Linked DNA regions of Homo sapiens. The protein of the gene in region 1 purifies or fractionates together with the protein of each later gene. This does not show direct contact. Each region holds a gene or a part of one and is shown in the gene's direction. Other genes may lie near its edges.

Region 1 (5,683 bases):
AATAAATAAAAAGCTGGGAAAAAGAAAAGTTTGGTCCTCATTTCTTTTAATAATCTGTAACACTCTTTAGTTTTGCGAAGTTCAGATTTATAGCAATTTAGACTATGGAATAAACAGGTCATTGACTCATAAAGGGAAAGTTTCCCTATCTTTCTCCAAAGTACTTTCTTTTTTGAAATTTAGAAGGTAATTATTGGCTAATTTCTGTTAGTAAAGAGAATTAAAGTGGACTAAGGGCTTTTTCTTTCCATTTCATAGAAGTGAGCTTGTAGTGGACAAAACAAAGAGGAAAAAAAGAAGAGAACTGTCTGAGGAACAGAAACAAGAAATTAAAGATGCTTTTGAACTATTTGATACAGACAAAGATGAAGCAATAGATTATCATGAATTAAAGGTAATGGTATACTTTAAAATATTTGTTTCTGTGTTAAAATGATTTGCATTTTTACAGTTGCTTTACATTACATTTCTAAATAATTATTTTAACTAAATTGGTTTTGGAACTATGAAGGCATTTTAAGCATTCATAGTTAGATGCTGTAATAAAACTGAAGAGAACTCCTAACATAGTTTTTAGAAAATCTTTTTCACATGAGAAAACGAATAGTATTTTAAATGTAAAAATACATTCCCAGGGAAGGTGCTTATTTTTCACTGTCATAATTAAAGGATTTCAAACTGGAATTTATTCTTACCATCTTCTTTTCACTGTTTTTTGTTTTTGTTTTTGTTTCTTGGTGACTCATACTGTTTTCAGACTGTGGGAGTGTTGTCTTTTAATCTTATAATTTGGATTTGTTAGTAACATAGTCTCAATCCACTTTCTCTGGTGCAAACAACTTTAGTGCTGTTTGATGTTGACACATGCTAATAGGTAAAAATGTCAGCTTTAAGACCTAGAATGTCAAAGTGTAGGGAGAGATTTGTAAATTATTATTTGTCAGGGTATAAGGAGAGATTTGGGTTTAGGGTAGAATGGGACTTACTTTCAGCACAGTGGGAAAGATAGTATTTTGAGATTTTTAATGGCCTTAATGGATAGGTGAATGTAAGTGTTTATTTGGTAGTTTTAATTTTTGTAATTTCGTAAGGGATTTTTAAGCATTAGAATTCCAAGTAGGGATAGGAACTATGCAGTGACAGGATAGAATGTATAAAAGCAGTTAATAGGCCTGCTAAGTCTAGCTTTCTCAATCTTGCAGTCCTCTTTGGCTCTCTTTTCCCACTGTTTTTTTTGTTTTTTTTTTTTTTTGGTTACCCAGATTTGATCTTCCTTTATAATGTCTGTTCCATTTGTAACCATTGACTATCTTGGTTTGGGACCTTATTTCATACCTGGAGCTTCCTAAATGATTTCTTACTAGTTCACCTTGTACACTACCACTGAATTTAGATAGTTTAAAAATTCTTTCACCATTGCTCATAAATTGTTCATTGCTCATAAACCATAACTCCTCATTGTATACTACTTAAAGTTCAGATTCCTTTGCTTTCTACTGAATGTTCTCTACACTTTTGCCACCAACTACTTTTTTCATTTGCTAACTGCTTTCTTCCTCCTGAACTCTTCTAATTAAGGTGGAATTCACCTCCTAATTCAGGTGAGCAGTTTACCTCACCTGAACTTTTCTAATTCAGGTGAGGTAAACTGCTCTGTTCATTGTCCTTCGAACCTATTCGTTTCAGTGTTTCTTTTAATACCAGTCATCCTTCCCAAATACCCTACTGCTCCTCTTCATCTATCCTTCAAGGAACAGTTTGAATCTTTCCAAATAAGACTTCTCTAGTCAGTAATATGTCTCCTTCCTTATTATTAGTAACAAAATCTCTTTTTTCTCTAAACTCAGGGTCCTTAGCCCTATCATTTACCTGGTAACTAATCATGGAAAGACTGATGATAATTCTTGTTTTAATGTTTTATCTCTTCTATCATGTAACTGTTTAATATTTATGCCACGCCTTTTTCTCATTTTGATTGTTAATCCCTTCAGAACAAATAACAATCAAATTATCTGTGCAATAAGTTAGTGCATTTTATATAGTAAAATCTGTAAACACTTGTTGGTTACTTTGTCATATAAAAAATGCAATTTATAAATGAAAAAACTTATGCATACTTAATTTCAGTAGTGAAGAACAATTACACTATCACTGCTATTTTAAAGAGGTAAAACATGCAAAAAAGTTATATTTTATTAATGTGTTGTCATCTCTTAAGATGTAAAAACTTAATAATTAGAAATTCTTTTGTAAAGAGTGCTTTATAATTTGCTTTTCCTTTTTAATCCAAAAGGTGGCAATGAGAGCCTTGGGGTTTGATGTAAAAAAAGCTGATGTACTGAAGATTCTTAAAGATTATGACAGAGAAGCCACAGGGAAAATCACCTTTGAAGATTTTAATGAAGTTGGTGTGTATTTTAATAGTCTTTGTAATCAGCAGCTGTTAGGAAATTGTCTGATTAATATCACTTTTTAAATTTTAAATTCTCTAGGTTATGGAATTTTCTTATAGAACACTGGTGTATAATGTGACTCTTACTCAGTTTTGTTTTGTTGGTTTTTTTTTCAAAGAAAAAATATGGCTTTGCTCTGAGATTTATAGTTTTGTCTTTTGTTTTGTTGTGAAGATTCTAACCAAGGAACTATTGTGTAGCTTTTTATAGAAAGATGCTTTTCCAAGTTGTTTGTATTTATATTATGTGATAAAACTTGAAGGGTGATCAAAAAATTATTTTTGCTTAATAAAACAGAAAATTTGATATCCTGCTGTTTGGAAAATGTTTCCCAAGACCTTTCTGGTATGTGATTTTTGTTGGCTAAGTGGGAGAAGAGGGAACTGGTAGTAGTTGGTATCTTTGGCTGTAGATGAAATGCACGACTTCAGGTTGACAAAGTTTATGAGAGGCTACATCCTCTGGATGACCTTGATCTCAGTGGATAAAGTCATCTGTTTAGAGGGTAGTAGTAAAGGAGGCAGTGGGCATACTGGAAGCAGGAGAAAACATCCTAGTACCACCAACTGAAGATAATGTGTCATAGGCTTAATATGGCTAAATTTTTTTATAGTTGATTTTAGTGAATTATTTATAGCATATATAGACCAGGCTTTTTCAAAATAGAAGAGTCCGGAAGGCAAGGATGTTGCTATTATAACTTAAATGTATTGTCTAGAATATTATCTACAAAATATGTAAATATTCAGGTTTATTTCTTTTTTTTTTTTTCTCTAAACCAATGGGTCACGATATAAGCACATCATATAAGTATTTTAAGATATTTTAAAAATTTGGAAACAAATTCTGCTATATACACAAACCCCTTATTTTAAATATTAATCAAGAAGCAATAGGGGAAGCAAAAAGAAATGGCAATTAGTAGACGCAGAGAAAATTTAGATTCATGTCATTAGTCAGTTTTTTAAATCCAAAAGCTCAAGTCATAAGCAGTTGAGATGGAAAATAAATGATGAACCTAAGAGAAAAAAAACACAGCACAGAAGATCCTCAACTTATGAACTAATATATGACTGTTTAGAGAGGCAACTTGTCCATTGGGGACATTTTCCTTTTTTCCTCTAATTTGTAGAATTAATTATTTGAGGAAAGGGAGAGAGCCACCTTTTGTTCTCCCAGAATGGACACTCTCCTGAAGTTTATGATCGTAGTATTCCTAGTTTTACCTTAGATTGTTTATTTGTAGAAACAAGGTGTTTGTATATAGTGGAAATGGTACTATTAGGAAGGAGCTATAATCCAGGTATGTTTAGTACAGTATAGTGGTTTAGCACTTGGAACCAGATTCCCTTGGTTCATACCTTGGTTTTGCCACTTTACAGCTCTGGAACTTGGTCTTTTTAATACCCCATGCCTCATTTTCAACTATAAAGTGGGGATCATTGTATTCTCTCATGAGATTCTTCTAAGGATTAAGTTAATGATATGTGAAGTACCTAGAAAAGGGCCTAGCATGTTGTAAGTGCTACTAAGCATTTGCTATTATTATTACTTTAAAAAATTGTCTTTGTTTCAGGGGCTCGAAATAATCATATATGCATCACTGGGACATAAAATAGACTTTGTGTATATTTTTTATTGACTTTTTTCATAAAGGCTATTGTAAGCACTGTATCATCACTAATAATTTTACAAAATATGTTATTTCACCTTAAATGAACACAATTTAAAAATTGTGATTTTTTTTTTTTTTTTTTTTTTTTTCTTTTGAGACAGAGTCTCGCTCTGTCGCCCAGGCTGGAGTGCAGTGGCGGGATCTCGGCTCACTGCAAGCTCCGCCTCCCGGGTTCACGCCATTCTCCTGCCTCAGCCTCCCAAGTAGCTGGGACTACAGGCGCCCGCCACTACGCCCGGCTAATTTTTTGTATTTTTAGTAGAGACGGGGTTTCACCGTTTTAGCCGGGATGGTCTCGATCTCCTGACCTCGTGATCCGCCCGCCTCGGCCTCCCAAAGTGCTGGGATTACAGGCGTGAGCCACCGCGCCCGGCCAAAAATTGTGATTTTTATTGGCAGTTGGGACCAGAATCCCATGCCACCTCCACTTTTTCCTGACACCCCATCTGTTCTATGTTATTAACAGAGCAGAAATACTGGGTTCCTTCTAGAATAAATAGATGTGGCTAAACTTCAGCTTTGACACTAAAAGATTAACCTTTTGACAGGGTCAACATGTATCTTAGCTATCTTAAGGCTACCTATGGAGAGTACCAGGTGTCAAATAAAAATGTATTACTGTTTGGGAATCATTCAGGAACTATGTATTACCCCTTTTGTTGATTATTTTTAACTAATCACTGACCACAGATTAATATGTTTTATACTTTGGGACAGATGATTCTAAATCATAACATTTGAGTCCTAGTTTTATGAACTACCCAAGGACACTGTTCCACAGATATATCTGGATGAAGTTTGGCAGTTAACTATTATAGACTCTTCCTAGTACTGGAAAAAAGCTTTAAAATATATTTAATTTAAGTTTAGAGTCAAGACAGCCTGAGGCTAGTGAGTAACATAGATATTTTAGGAATTAGTGTCTTTAAGACTAACATAAGTCAAACGTTTGTACACTATTTTTGACATGTACTACTTATTATTGCTGATTGAGATTGTAATACTGTATTATTGTCTTCATTTTGCTTATTTAACACTGAATTTTTTGGTATTAGGTACTGTACTGGGGTTGGGAAGAAGACTTAATTAAAAGTTACTAAAAGGTTCTTCTTTCAGGGAGTTTACAATGTAAATATAGGTGACAACAGGCTATAGTACTATGTGGTAAATTGTAATTTTGTCTAGGACAGAAGTCAGCAACTATAGCCTTTGGACCAAATTCAGCTGCTGCTTGTACACCACCACACCCCTTCTTTTATGCAGCTTTTGTGCTACTATGGCAGAGTGAGTAGTTAGAGACTTTATGGCCCTCTACAAAGCCTAAAATATTTACTATTGGCCTTTTACAGGAAAGATTTGTTAATCCCTGATCTAGAGGAATTGAAGTCTTTGCAGAGGAGATTTTAAATTTAGGCCTTTGGAAATGTGAGTAAGATTTCATTCCAAGATTGCCAGGAAGAGTAGAGAAAAAGCATTCTAGGCTTAGAAAGCAGCAACAACAAAGAATGGTACTAGACGGATAGCATGTTTGGGAAACTAGGTAGTGTTCTGGGCT
Region 2 (4,748 bases), on another chromosome or scaffold:
ACTCCATGCAGCCGGTATGAGTGGTGGGTGGTTTGGGGTCCTGTAAGACAAAGCTGCAGGAGCCTTTCTGGGCGTTTGGTGGAGCCTAGCGAGTAGCCAGCCCCAGAATCCAGTGTCTCCCAGGGAAGACGGCTCAGCGGAAAAACCCGGTTCATGCTGACCCGTGGCTTATCAGTGCTGGGGGACCTACAGAGTGAGTCCTCTAGGCGGCACTCCCTGCCTATGCAGGAGACCCCTGGCACCATCCAGGACTCCTAGCAATGGGAGGACATTCAGCTGGGCAGAGGCTGGGTTAGATCAGGACCCACCCCAGGCTGTCTAGGCTGGGTCAGGACGCCACTCTCTGTGCACTTGCTCTCCCCCAGCTCCTGCACAGGCAGAGCACCCAACTGCTGGCACAGAGACTCAGCCGGACCTGCTTCCGCCAGTGGAGACAACAGGTGGGAACCCAGGAGATGTCCCCTCTGCACTTCCTTCTCCATCCTCTGGCCTGTGAGGCCTGGGCAGTGAATGACCTTCAGCCTACACCTCTAGTTCAGTATTTTTACTATCACCCTCCCCAGGGCCACCTCCTCTACCACCTTCCTGTCATTTCCAGGCACATCAGCTTCCTTCCGTCTGCAGTCTGCATAAGAACAGTTACTTCAAGGCCAGTTTCTCTCTCTACAGTGTTGTATTAAAAAATACATCAGTGGAGGCCGGGCGCAGTGGCTCACGCCTGTAATCCCAGCACTTTGGGAGGCCGAGGCAGGCGGATCATGAGGTCAGGAGATCGAGACCATCCTGGCTAACACGGTGAAACCCCGTCTCTACTAAAAATACAAAAAAAATCAGCCAGGCGTGGTGGTGGGCGCCTGTAGTCCCAGCTACTCGGGAGGCTGAGGCAGGAGAATGGCGTGAACCTGGGAGGCAGAGCTTGCAGTGAGCTGAGATAGCACCACTGCACTCCAGCCCGGGCAACAGAGCGAGACTCTGTCTAAAAAAAAAAAAAAAAAAAAATATATATATATATATATATATATATATAATCAGTGGGCCGGGCATGATGGCTCACGCCTATAATCCCAGGATTTTGGGAGGCCGAGGCAGGAGGATCACTTGAGCCCAGAAGTTCAAGACCAGCCTGGGCAACATAGTGAGACCCCATCTCTACAAAAACAAAACAGAAAAATTAGCTGGGTGTAGGCAGTGCACACCTGTGGTCCCAACTACTCGGGAGGCTGAGGCGGGAGGATTGCTTGAGCCCGGGAGGTCAAGGTTGCAGTGAGCTGTGATCATGCCACTGCACTTCAGCCTGGATGAGAGTGAGATTCCATCTCAAAAAGAAAAATCAGCATAATATCTTAAAAATTAACATGAAATGTGTTTTAAGGCTTTGCTGGGATCTTGCTTTTTAAAAAGCCAAGAGGGATCACACAGAGCAGCATCCACACGTCCCCAGCTCCCTCTTCCCGTTCTGTTGTCCTGTTTTCACCATTCCCCGGACCTCAGGCCGCTGCCTCCACGCATCCCCCTGCAGGAGCCCTTTGCCACCTTCTTTCATGAAGGTCATTCCTCAGGCCACAGATGGAGCGTGTGTTGAGCATCTCACCGCCAGGCACAAGGCTGGCCCTTCCTAGTGGAGGAAGTGGGAGCCTCGACTAGAGAGGGAGCCAAGAGGGACGAGCTGGGCAGGGCCCCGTGATCACCACGGCCTCCTTGAAGGGGCTATAGGGAAATGATCTGGTCTTTCTGGCCCTAGCTGGCAGCCAGGAGGCAGGAGCAGCGGGCGACAGTGCGGGCCCTGTGGTTCTGGGCCTTCTCGCTGCAGGCAAAGGTAATTGGGGCTCTGCATCCTACCATCCCTGCCTCTCCCTCAGGCCTTAGCCCTGCCTTGGGTGGAGGGAGGGCACCTGGTCTGTGGGGGAGCTCTAAGCAGGGAGACCTGGGCCTCACCTCCTGCCCTCCCTGGAGGTGTGGGCCACGTGGCTGGCCTTTGTACTGGAAAGGAGGAGAAAGAAGGCGCGGCTGCAGTGGGCGCTCCAGGCCTACCAGGGGCAGCTCCTCCAGGAGGGTGCCACGCGGCTCCTGCGCTTTGCAGCCAGCATGAAGGCCTCCCGGCAGCAGCTGCAGGCCCAGCAGCAGGTCCAGGTAGGCCCAGGGCCCCTTCCTGTGGGGAGCAGGCAGGGTGTGGCATGAGCTGACCAGAGGCTGTGTTGTAGGCGGCTCACAGTCTCCATCGTGCCGTCCGCCGCTGTGCCACGCTCTGGAAACAGAAAGTGCTGGGCCGGGGCGGGAAGCCTCAGCCCCTGGCAGCCATCGCACCCAGCAGGAAAGTGACGTTTGAGGGTCCCCTTCTCAACCGCATTGCTGCTGGGGCTGGGGATGGCACCCTTGAGACCAAGAGGCCACAGGCTTCTCGGCCTCTGGGAGCTCTGGGCCGCCTGGCTGCTGAGGAGCCCCACGCCCTGGAGCTGTGAGTAGCCTGTGCTCACCTTGTCCTCGCTTCCACCCTGGGCAAAAGGTTGGATGGCATAGCAGGGAGGAAAACAGCCCTGACGGGATGGGACGGGCTGGTCACGGCCTTGTCACAGCTGAGCTGCTGGGAACCCCCTCTTCTCCAGCCAGATCCCATCCCTCCCACGGCAAGAGGGAGAGAATGGAGTGGGATTTCCAAACCCTCTCTCCTTTGCCTGCCAAAGCTCAGGAAATAGGTGTCCCCTCCTCTGCAACACCTTCCTACCCTCTCTCCCGTCCTGCTGACACGATCTTTTCCGGAGTCATACACGTAGTTGACAAAGGGAACAAGCTCAGCTCCTACCCGTGCCTGCCGGCCTCTCTTCTGCTCCATCACAGCCAAGACACTGGCTTTTTGTCAGAAGCCCCTCTTTCTTGTGTGAGCTGGCACCTGTCCCTCTGCCCACCCCTACTATGGTCTCCTCAAACCCTAACCTGCCCTGCCCCATGCTGATGAAGCTGGTGGCTCCCACAGCAACCAGCACTACCCGAGAGCCTTGGGCCTCGGGGGAGATGTCAGGTGGGTGCATGGGGCCTGGGTCCCGGTCCCTGCTGTGCTCCTCACTGTTTGACTGACCTTGATGGGATCCTGAACGTCTCAGAGGCTGCTCCCCTGTGACATGGACCCTGGCGACCTGTACACCAGCGTCACCAGGGTTGTTCTGCAGGTCAAAAGAGACAATGTGGGTGAAGCAGTCCCCTGGCGTCAGGTACCTTTTGTCGGAACTGCTGGGAGCTCTATGGCCCAGGCCCACCCCAGCTTACTTGCTGACCTTGGCCTCGCCTTTCCTGACTTTCAGTCTCCCTATAAAATTGGAGATCCCACAGAGATCTCAGACCCCCCTGCAGCCCCTGGTCAGCCCAGGGGAACAGACCCCATGTTTCTTTCCAGCAACACTGCCCACTCAGCGAGGAAGCAGCCGCGACGCCCACACTTCCTGTTGGAGCCTGCGCAGAGCCAGAGGTCCCTGGGGTGCAGCACCGTGGGCAGGCAGGGGGAGATGGTCAGGGGTCCCCAAAGGCAGCGGGCACCTCCATGTGGGGCCTGTGTTTTGGCAGCCCTGGGGTGGGTGGCCCCCTTTCCTTCTTGTTCTTTGGTCCCAGAGGAGGGTCCTGTGGCCTGACCAGGCTCTTGCCTTCCCTGTGCTCAGGCCTCAGAAGCCACAGGAACATGGCCTAGGCATGGCTCAGCCAGCAGCCCCCTCCCTGACGCGGCCCTTCCTGGCAGAGGCCCCGACAGCACTGGTCCCACACAGCCCCCTGCCTGGGGCCCTGTCAAGCGCCCCTGGCCCGAAGCAGCCCCCGACGGCAAGCACAGGCCCGGAGCTGCTGCTGCTGCCTCTTTCCTCCTTCATGCCCTGCGGGGCGGCTGCACCAGCCAGGGTACGTCCTCCACCACCAGGCCTGGGCACTGGGGCTCTCACTCTGGTCTGACTTCTGGTGCTTTCTCATGCCACAGCTGTACTAGTTTCTGGAAAACCTTGGCACAGGGAGGCCACTCATCCATTTGACAAGCATAGGTAGCCACTGCACACCAGGTCCAAGGGCCACAGCAGTGAACAGCCAGCCAAGGGCCCTGCCATCCTGAAGCTTATATTCTAGTCAGAGACAAGCAAAGAAAAACCCCTGCCTGCAGGCCAGTAAAGTGGCTGCAGATCACGTAGGGTCCTGCAGGCCACAGTGAGAAGTAGCCTGGGATTTGAGAAGAGTAGGAAGTCGGGGAAGGGTTTTGGCAGGGAGCACCATGTCAGGTTTCTGTGCAGGCTGTGGTCACCATGACCACGTGGTCCAGGCAAGTAGTACTGGTGGCCTGGGCTCAGCGGTTGCCACAGAGGGGACAGGTACTCTCTTGGAGGCAGATGAGGCAGGATATGCTGCTCTGAGGGAGTTGCTGAATGAGGGGAAAGAAGGAATCCAGGCTGATGTGGGCTGCTGGCTTGAATAACTTGGGAAACAGAGTTCTTTGACTGGAAGAAGGAACTGGGGGTGGGGACTGGTTTGGGGTGAAGTGTCAAGAGTGTTTTGAACCAGGCTCTTGATGTCAAATTTGAGAGAAAGCAAACGTTGAGTCTGACCTTCAAGGAAGAGGTCAGGGCCAGAGATTGAGAAGAATCTTCAGCACAGGCCGAAGGTAACCCCAGAGCCACTGCGGCCTCTAGGAGGAGAGTACAGGGGAAGGAGAGAGGGGAGGAGGCTCCAAGCAGGGAGCCTGGGTGGGGATGGCCAGGGGGTGTGAGAGCTCAGTAATGGAA
Region 3 (4,748 bases), on another chromosome or scaffold:
ATACAACTGGTAAGTGAAATTTAGCCAAGGATACCTATGAATTTTGGTCATGTATAGAATACGTGTAATTTTTGCCTCCATATATCTTAAGGTAAGGGAGTCATTTTGATACGTGAATGGTATTTTTTGTCAAAATATGAATTTTGATATTTAGATCCTTATCTAAAAGTAATTGCATAATTTATCGAGAATATTTTATTGAATCCTTGATTTAAAGCTTAATATTTTAAAAAGGTATTTTATAAATAGGTGCTAAAGTACACATTCTGCAGGAGTTGTATCATAAAAATGACACTCATGCTGGGCGTGGTATCATGAGCCTGTAGTCCCAGCTATGCAGGAGGCTGAGGTGGGAGGATTGCTTGAGCCCAGAAATTCAAGGCTGCAGTGAGCTATGATTTCGCCTTTGTCTAGCCACTGCACTCCAGCCTGGGCAACAGAGGGAGACCCTGTCTCTATAAAAAGAAAAAAAAAAAGAACGACACTTGTTATAATATTATTATAATTAATAATTTAACTATACATTATCACATATTAAATTATAGCCTGGGCGTGGTGGCTCACGCCTGTAATCCCAGCACTTTGGGAGGCCGAGGTGGATGGATCACCTGAGGTCAGGAGTTTGAGACCAGCCTGGCCAACATATAGTGAAATCCCATCTCTACTAAAAAATACAAAATGGTGGTGTATGGACCTGTAGTCCCAGCTACTTGGGAAACTGAGGCAGGAGAATCACTTGAACCCGCAAGGTGGAGATTGCAGTGAACCGAGATCGTGCCACTGCACTCCAGCCTGGGGGACAGAGCGAGATTCTGTTTCTTGAAACAAGAAAGAGAGAGAGAGGAGAGAGAGAGAGAGAGAGAGAGAGAGAGAGAGAAAGGAAGGAAGGAAAGAAAAGAAAAGAGGGAGGGAGGGAAGGGAAGGGAAGGGAGAAGGAAGGAAGGATAATTTGAGGAAGAAAAACTTGAAATAAATAATAATTGCTGATAATTACATGTACTTTTGGCTAAGCCTAAAATGATATCATTTTGGGACATAATTAAAAGGTTTAGCATGTTACAATAAACTGTTCATGTATAGGAAATAGAAGAGCAGGAGAAAATGTTAAAAGAGAAGAAGGCAATGACAGCGGAAGCCTCTGAGTTGGACATTAACAATGCAGTGGAATTAGAATGGAGAAAAATAAGTGACTCTAGTTTGCTGGAAACAATGCTGTCTCAAGCGGACTCACTCCATACTTCAAATTCAAATAGTTCTGGTAAATATTTAAAAATCCTTTTACATTTGGGAAAGTGATCCTACGGTAAGATATTTATTTGGCACACTATAAGATTATATCTCCTGTTTTCAAATGATTCCATGTCCAACCCTCTTTGCCAGCTGCTTAGTAACCAGTGAAAAATGACATGATAGGAGATCAAAGACTTGTGAGCAGATGTTTGTGAACAAAGATTACCTTTGCCAGGAAAAGATCAGGAAATTTGGCTTAGAGCCCAGTCTGATCATTCATGCAGCAGGTGATATACTTCAAGTGAAAACAGTTTGCTCTCTCCTGAGTGATCTTGAATTACCTCTAATTCCCTAGTCCCTTTAAATAGCTTATCTTCATATCTCAATTATCCTGAGATGCTGTTTGTGTTGAAAAGATCCACCTGGTATGTAAGCTTTAAAGTCCATAAATATTTTAAGTCGGCAGGTAGGTCATTTTTGGAGGCAGTTGTTATTCTTAATGAGTGTCACAAGTGTTTATTGGGATGTTCTTCGTATTCTAATTATATGACATCAAGTATAATACTATATGTATGTTTCTCTAGGTTTCACAAATTCTGCCATGCAATATAGCTTTGTTTCTGCAAACGAAGCACCATTCTACCTCTGGGGATCATCAACTAGTGGCTTGACCAAACTCTCAGTAACAAGGCCTTTTGGAAGAGCCAAAACTAGATGGTCTCAAGTGGGTAAACTTAATGATACATGTCCATCTATCTATTTATCTTTTCTTAAGAGCTATATTATCTTAGACTGTATAAATGAACACCAATAAACATTGTGTCTGTCTTCTTTCTCCTAGGTTTTTAGTCTGGAAATACAAGCAAAATTTAACAAAATAACTGCAGTGGCAAAAGGATTTCTTACTCGTAGACTTATGCAGACAGATAAGCTGAAGCAACTTCGACAAACTGTAAAAGTAAGATTCCTGTAAATCGTTTGTATTTCACTTCTGTCTTAGTTTCTATCAGTCTTGTGACAGCTGAGCTAACAGATTAGTTCAGAACTTAAACGCTTTTTAGTCACTGTAATCTAGGCAGTTTTAGAAGTCTGATTGTTTGTTGCGGGAAGTCAGGGACCCCGAATGGAGGGACCAGCTGGAGCCGCAGCAAAGGAATATAAATTGTGAAGATTTCATTTTAATATGGACATATATCAGTTCCCAAATAACACTTTTATAATTTCTTACTCCTGTCTTTACTTCAATTGCTGAACATAAATTGTGAAGATTTCATTTTAATATGGACATTTATCAGTTCCCAAAATTAATACTTTTATAATTTCTTATGCCTGTCTTTAATCTCTTAATCCTGTTATCTTCATAAGCTGAGGATGTAGGTCACCTCAGGACCACTATTGTGTTAACTCTACAAATTGATTGCAAAACATGTGTGTTTGAACAATAGGAAATCAGTGCAACTTGAAAAAGAACAGAATAACAGCGTTTTTCAGGGAACAAGGGAAGACAACCATAACTGACTGCCTGCGAGGTCGGGCAAAATAGAGCCATATTTTTCGTCTTGCAGAGAGCCTATAAACGGACGTGCAAGTAGGGAAGATATTGCTAAATTCTTTTCCTAGCAAGGAATATTAATAATTAATACCCTGGGGAAGGAATGCATCCCTGGGGGGAGGTATATAAACGGCCACTCTGGGAGTATCTGTCTTATGCGGTTGAGATAAGGACTAAAATATGCCCTGGTCTCCTGCAGTACCCTCAGGCTTACTAGGATTGGGAAATTCCACCCTGGTAAATTTGTGGTCGGACCAGTTCTCTGCTCTCAAACCCTGTTTCCTTTTAAGATGTTTATCAAGACAATACGTGCACAGCTGAACATAGACCCTTATCAGTAGTTCTGATTTTGCCCTTGTCCTGTTTCCTCAGAAGCATGTGATCTTTGTTCTCCTTTTTGCCCTTTGAAGCATGTGATCTTTGTGACCTACTCCCTGTTCTTGCACCCCCTCCCCTTTTGAAATCCTTAATGAAACTTGCTGGCTTTAAGGCTCAGGTGGGCATCATGGTCCTACCAATATGTGATGTCCCCCTCGGACGCCCAGCAGTAAAATTCCTCTCTTTGTACTCTTTCTCTTTATTTCTCATCTGGCTGACACTTATGAAAAATAGAAAGAACCTATGTTGAAATATTGGGGGCTGGTCCCCCCAATAATCGTTAATCTTTCTCAGATAATATTATGAATAACATGTAAATGAAGCAGTTTGTGTGTTTTTGACTTGCTTGAAAGTGAGTGGTTTGACTTCTGATAAGTAATAGTTTTATTTATGTTCTTAGTACAGTCGGTCCTCTATCTCTGGGTTCCACATCTGTGGATTCAACGAACCATGGATCAAAAATAATTCAGAAAAAACAAATGATGGTTGTGTCTGTACTGAACATGTACAAATTTTTTTTCCTTGTCATTATTTCCTAAACAATATAACAACTATTTACATAGCATGTACATTTATTAGGTATTTTAACTAATCTAGAGATGATTTAAAGTATATGGGAGATGTGCTTAGGTTATATGCAGATAACTATTTTATATAAGGGACTCCAGCATCCTTGGATTTTGGTATCTGAGGGATTCATGGAACCAGTCCCCCACAGATACTGACGAAAGACTGTAATTTTGGATTGACTGAGAAAAAGAAAAAAGCAAACTCCAGTGATCACAAATCTTTCTAGAAAAATGTTTTTGAAGGAGCATTTCTTTTTTCAGGATACTATGGAATTCATAAGAAGTTTTCAGTCAGAAGCACCATTAAAGAGAGGCATTGTTTCAGCTCAAGATGCTTCACTTCAGGAAAGAGTGTTAGCTCAGGTAAATACATGGATCCTGAAGGCTTTTAAGACATGGACATATTATATTTCTCCTTTTTTATTTAATCACTGAAAATAGGTTTCAATGAAAACTATTTTAATCTTTTTCTATAAATAAGTGTACATGGTATATAGTATTCCTGAACTCTAACCTCATCTTTTAAATGTATACAATATTTTCTTCTCTTGTGCCTAGTTGCGAGCTGCCTTGTACGGTATTCATGACATATTCTTTGTAATGGATGCAGCTGAAAGAATGTCTATTCTACATCATGATCGAGAAGTTCGCAAAGAGAAAATGCTCAGGCAAATGGTATGTTATATGATTTCTAATGAATAGAGTTCTTCTGGGTTTAGGGTAATTGATACTAAATGTCAGTTTTGGTTGACTTCAGCACCCTTCTTCTGATAATTCTTAAGCACAAGTAATTCCTGGAATTACTAGCAGCATTTAAATCTGTAGACAGATTTAAAAGAATTACATCATTTAAGAATTACATATTGTTTTCTTATTGGATTTTAGAGTTGAAGCTTTGAATGTTTTGCTCAGATGGCTTATACAATCTATCAGCTGCTCCTGATTGAATTTCCTTGAATTCAATTATAATGTGGGTTTTGCTTTTTTTGAAATCTGAGTTAGAAAACAGGCTCCAAGTT
Region 4 (4,748 bases), on another chromosome or scaffold:
TGGATTAGATAGCTTAAGCATGTTGTTATCCCTTTTCTGCAGAGAAGCTCACATATTGCTGCCATAATGCTAACCAGGACCTGGCAGGTTTCATCGTGTTGGCAGATTATTGTAAGATAACAAGTTGTAGTAGAAGATTCTGACCAAAAAAATGATGTGTGCTAGATAGCAGCAGTGCCCTGAAACTAGCATGCAAGCATCCCAAACAGCATTCCATACCATCACCAAAGTAAGAAATTGTTGCTCTAAAATAGTTTCCTCCCCCAGTCTCTCTTGAATAGTGTCCTGGGTTCCCCTTTTCGTCTTAGAAACATCAGGTTCTGGCGAGTGCCGCTCACCACACTGCTGACTTGGGACAATAGTTCCTGTCCTCTCTTGGGAATAGTTTAATCAGGCATTAGAATTAGAGCAACTGATAATGTTTTGAATGCTGACAAGTATCTTGTTTGCTGACTGCTGTCATGATTGTCAAAAACAAAAGCTTTGAGCCCATACTTTTAAGACCTTATTTGATGTTTTTGTTTCTTTTGAGACAGTCTCACTCTATTACCGAGGCTAGAGCACAATGGTGCAATCTTGGCTCACTGCAACCTCTGCCTCCCGGGTTCAAGCGATTCTCATGCCTCAGCCTCACGAATAGCTGAGACTACAGGCATGCGCCACCATGCACAGCTGATTTTTGTTTTTCTTATAGAGACGGGATTTCACCATGTTGGTTAGGCTTGTCTTGAACTCCTGGCCTCAAGTGATCCGCCTGCTGCAGCCTCCCAAAGTGCTGGGATTACAGATGTGAGCCACCATGCCCAGCCCTTAAGACCTTCTTTGAATACTCCTTTGTATTTATCTTGTGGCCTTAATTTTGCTTTTGGTTAAGGAAATTAGTGAATGGGGTTTAGCTTCATTCTTCATTTAGAGGAAAACTGTAGGTAATTTATTCTGAAAGTGTGGTCAGACGGAATCTAAGAGAACCTGTTTCCCTTGGCGACGAAAAATAATCAGTTGAATGTCTGAATAACAGGAATCCTTTTCTGCTCCCTATGGGAAAAAAGAAACCTTGAGTTAATATTTTATGTAATCAGTGCAATGTGCTACTAGGTAATGAGTGGGAAGTAGATGGAGAATATAGGAAATAATGCTTGGTCTCTGTTCTTTAGAAGATTACAACCACAGGCTGGGCGCGGTGGCTCACGCCTATAATCCCAACACTTTGGGAGGCTGAGGCGGATGGAACACGAGGTCAGGAGTTCAAGACCAGCCTGGCCAAGATGGTGAAACCCCATCTCTACTAAAAAAAAAAAAAAAAAAATTAGCCAGGCGTGGTGGTGGGCGCCTGTAATCCCAGCTACTCAGGAGGCTGAGGCAGAGAATTGCTTGAACCCAGGAGACAAGAGGTTGCAGTGAGCTGAGATCACGCCACTGCACTCCAGCCTGGGCAACAGAGCGAGACTCCGTCTCAAAAAATAAATAAAAAAAAAAAAAGATTACAACTACAGAATAACATAAAATTATATATTTGCGATAAGCAAATATAAACCATGTGGTCTCAGACACACTTTGGCTGCTTCCCCTGTCATAGGTAGAGAATTACCAGAACTCCTCTTTTGTTTTGCCATTCTAGTATTCATGTTATTTACTCCTCTTGGCAAATTTAACTGGTTTAAGAGTGATTTAGTTTACGTAAATTGGGCATTTGGAGGCATTCTATGGTAGAAAGAATGTGTACTTGGGAGTTAACATGTCTTTGAATGCTAGCACCCTCCCTTATCAAGCTATTTGACCACAGGTCCCTCTAAGACTAAACAACTTGAAAGTCTCCCTCAAAATGGGAGTAATAGAATAACTACCTCACAGAGTTGGTGAAAAACACAGGTGTGCTCTGGCCCATGGACATTCAATAAACGTTAGTTTCCTTTTCTTCCCATCTAACTAGGAATGTGTTTTTTCTAGATTGAATGACAAAGTGAAGAAGAAAGCTCTAACATCATTTGAAAGGGATTCCATCTTCAGCAACTTGACTGGGCAGCTTGATTACCAAGGTTTTGAAAAGGCCGACATGGTGATTGAAGCTGTGTTTGAGGACCTTAGTCTTAAGCACAGAGTGCTAAAGGAAGTAGAAGCGGTAAGCAAGGGGCTGTTGTACTTGAATCCTAGTGTAGTGAACAGAAAACACAGAGATTTTTTTTTTAAAGGAGCTATAGGAAACTCATGATTGCTTTTATAAAAAGGACTATTCAAAGGCTGGGCATGGTGGCTCACGCCTATAATCCCAGTAGTTTGGGAGGCTGAGGTGGGCGGATCACGAGGTAAGGAGTTCGAGACCAGACTGGCCGATATGATGAAACCCCATCTCTACTAGAAAATACAAAAATTAGCCGGGCATGGTGGCACACACCTGTAGTCCCAGCTATTTGGGAGGCTGAAGCAGGAGAATCACTGGAACCTGGGAGGCAGAGGTTGCAGTGAGCCGAGATCACGCCACTGCACTCCAGTCTGGGTGACAGAGCGAGACTCCATCTCCAAAAAAAAAAAAAAGACTTTTTGTTATCAAACGTTAAGTTTTTATGTGTGCTCATGCACACTGCATATGTTATAAAGGTCAAATCTAAATTCTAAAGGAAGAAAATGAGGGTGCGTTCACCTTATTCATGTAGGAGCTCTGTCACCCAAACATACAGATAACCTCACAGAGTATAGCCAGATGCTTTGAGATTTTTTGGTTAGCCGAAAGCCAAAAACAAACCTCTTCAGGTCTAAGGCTGCAAAGGAAATAGGGAAGACAGTTCGTCCAGATGCTTGTTCTGTGGAAATGCTGCTTTGGCCCAGCTCCCAAATGTTCTCCATAGGCACTTCTTGAGATGGGCTGACATGAACAAAACAAGTACTTGAAGTGGGGAGTAGGAAGAGTAAGCCCCGAGAAGGAGTAATAGCAGTAATTCAGGGATGAGGTAGGACCAAGGCCTAAGCTAGTCTACAGTTGGATAAACAGAATGTGGGTTACTGAAAGGTGAACATGAAATGATTCTGACTTGGCAACATGCTGGATATAATGAGCAGTGAGCTCATTACAAAAAATAAGAGTACCACAGAGCAAAACTCCGTCTCAAAATAAATAAATAAACAAACAAACAAACATTATCTTCTCTTATTGCCCATAGAGCTAACAAAACCCATTCCTTGGACAATCTTCCACAGGCATGATCTCTAGACCACCCCGTTTCGGTTGTCCTCTCTAGTATCTTCCTCATGTCTCCGTGTTCTACTGCTGTGTTTACAACTATCTTTTCACAATTCTGCAATCTGGGCAGGGCTCTGCAGAGACAGTGGTGCTTAAGTCCATTGATTTCAAGGCTGGGGTCACTCCTGGGCTGCATTCCGCAGGAAGCTCGGTTGGGGCACCTCACTGCTTCCCCCACATCTCTCATAGTCCATCCTCACTTAGTCGTCTCACCACAACTTCTTTGTAGCGTGGCTGCAGGCTTCCAAGAGAACAAAAGCAGAAGCTACTGAGCTTCCTAAGTTTATTGTCAGGAAGAAAAAAAGATAAATAATTTAAAAAATAAAAAAAGAGGCTACCGGGCCCCACAGGTCTAGGTAGGCCTGGAACTGGCAGGGTAACTTCTGCTGCATTGTGTTGATAAAAACAAGTCACAAGACCAGCCCAGATTCAAGGAGAAGGGAAACAGACTCTACTTCTAGCTGGGAGAAAAGACATACATGTCCAAGGAAGGGAAGAATGTTTGCCAGCCAGCTTTGGAGACATTAGTTTGCTCTTCAGAAAGGATTTCACCACCAGCATTAGACACTATATTACTAAGAAAGTAACCTGACACTACGTAAGCTTTCTGACAGTCATGCTGTACTGTCAATTCATTCCACTTTTGTTTTGTTTTTTTGTTGTTAGAGACAGGGTCTCACTCTGTCACCCAGGCTGGAGTGCAGTGGCATGATCACAGCTCACTGTAACCTTGAACTCCTGGGCTCAAGCGAGCCTCTCACTTCAGCCTCCTGAGTAACTAGGACTATGGGTATGTACCACCATGCCTGGCTAGTTTTTTAAAGTTATTTTTTGTAGGGCCGGGCACTGTGGCTCACACCTGTAATCCCAGCACTTTGGGATGCTGAGGCGGGTGGATCACGAGGTCAGGAGTTCAAGACCAGCCTGGCCAAGATGATGAAACCCTGTCTTTACTAAAAACTACAAAAAAATTAGCCAGGCATGGTGGCAGGTGCCTGTAATCCCAGCTACTCGGGAGGCTGAGGCAGGAGAATTGCTTGAACCCAGGCGGCAAAGCTTGCGGTGAGCTGAGATTGCACCACTGCACTCTAGCCTGGGCGAAAAAGCAAGACTTTGTCTCCAAAAAAAAAAAAAAAGTTATGTTTTGTAGATATAGGGTCTCACTATGATGCCGAGGTTGGTCTTGAACTCCTGGCCTCAAGTAATCCTCCATCCTTGGCCTCCTGAAGTGTTGGGATTATAGTTGTTTAGCCACCATGCCCACCCTCCACTCTTGATTAACTAAAATCATGGGATCTTTATCACAAATACTGCCAAGCCAGGTCTTGTCCTTCAAGTACCTATACAGTTCTTTTCTTTCCTTTTTTTTTTAAATCTTAAGGCAGTACTTTACTTTTATTGCATTATAATCTTATTTTGTACTCAGCTTTTCAGTGTGTTGAATGTGTCTTCCTCCTTGATTCTCATCTCTGTTAGGATTCTGCCTGTTCCAGATTTGCACACATTTGACAGG

What was found.
Region 2: the proteins of CETN3 (region 1) and SFI1 purify together in Homo sapiens (affinity purification with mass spectrometry; one large-scale study listed by BioGRID and IntAct). This does not show direct contact.
Region 3: the proteins of CETN3 (region 1) and CCP110 purify together in Homo sapiens (co-immunoprecipitation; one large-scale study listed by IntAct). This does not show direct contact.
Region 4: the proteins of CETN3 (region 1) and HADHA purify together in Homo sapiens (affinity purification with mass spectrometry, with the first as the bait; one study listed by BioGRID). This does not show direct contact.

The regions. Positions count from the first base shown.
Region 1 is NC_000005.10:90,402,410-90,408,092, reverse strand, and holds part of CETN3 (centrin-3), read left to right. Parts: intron 1-258; coding exon 259-394; intron 395-2,293; coding exon 2,294-2,408; intron 2,409-5,683. UniProt on the Homo sapiens protein: Plays a fundamental role in microtubule-organizing center structure and function. As a component of the TREX-2 complex, involved in the export of mRNAs to the cytoplasm through the nuclear pores.
Region 2 is NC_000022.11:31,611,401-31,616,148, forward strand, and holds part of SFI1 (protein SFI1 homolog), read left to right. Parts: intron 1-365; coding exon 366-440; intron 441-1,741; coding exon 1,742-1,816; intron 1,817-1,953; coding exon 1,954-2,130; intron 2,131-2,201; coding exon 2,202-2,455; intron 2,456-3,388; coding exon 3,389-3,460; intron 3,461-3,647; coding exon 3,648-3,879; intron 3,880-4,748. UniProt on the Homo sapiens protein: Plays a role in the dynamic structure of centrosome-associated contractile fibers via its interaction with CETN2.
Region 3 is NC_000016.10:19,540,807-19,545,554, forward strand, and holds part of CCP110 (centriolar coiled-coil protein of 110 kDa), read left to right. Parts: intron 1-1,080; coding exon 1,081-1,258; intron 1,259-1,814; coding exon 1,815-1,954; intron 1,955-2,071; coding exon 2,072-2,188; intron 2,189-3,990; coding exon 3,991-4,092; intron 4,093-4,287; coding exon 4,288-4,404; intron 4,405-4,748.
Region 4 is NC_000002.12:26,198,520-26,203,267, reverse strand, and holds part of HADHA (trifunctional enzyme subunit alpha, mitochondrial precursor), read left to right. Parts: exon of another isoform or gene 1-948; coding exon of another isoform or gene 949-1,035; intron 1,036-1,947; coding exon 1,948-2,119; intron 2,120-4,748. UniProt on the Homo sapiens protein: Mitochondrial trifunctional enzyme catalyzes the last three of the four reactions of the mitochondrial beta-oxidation pathway.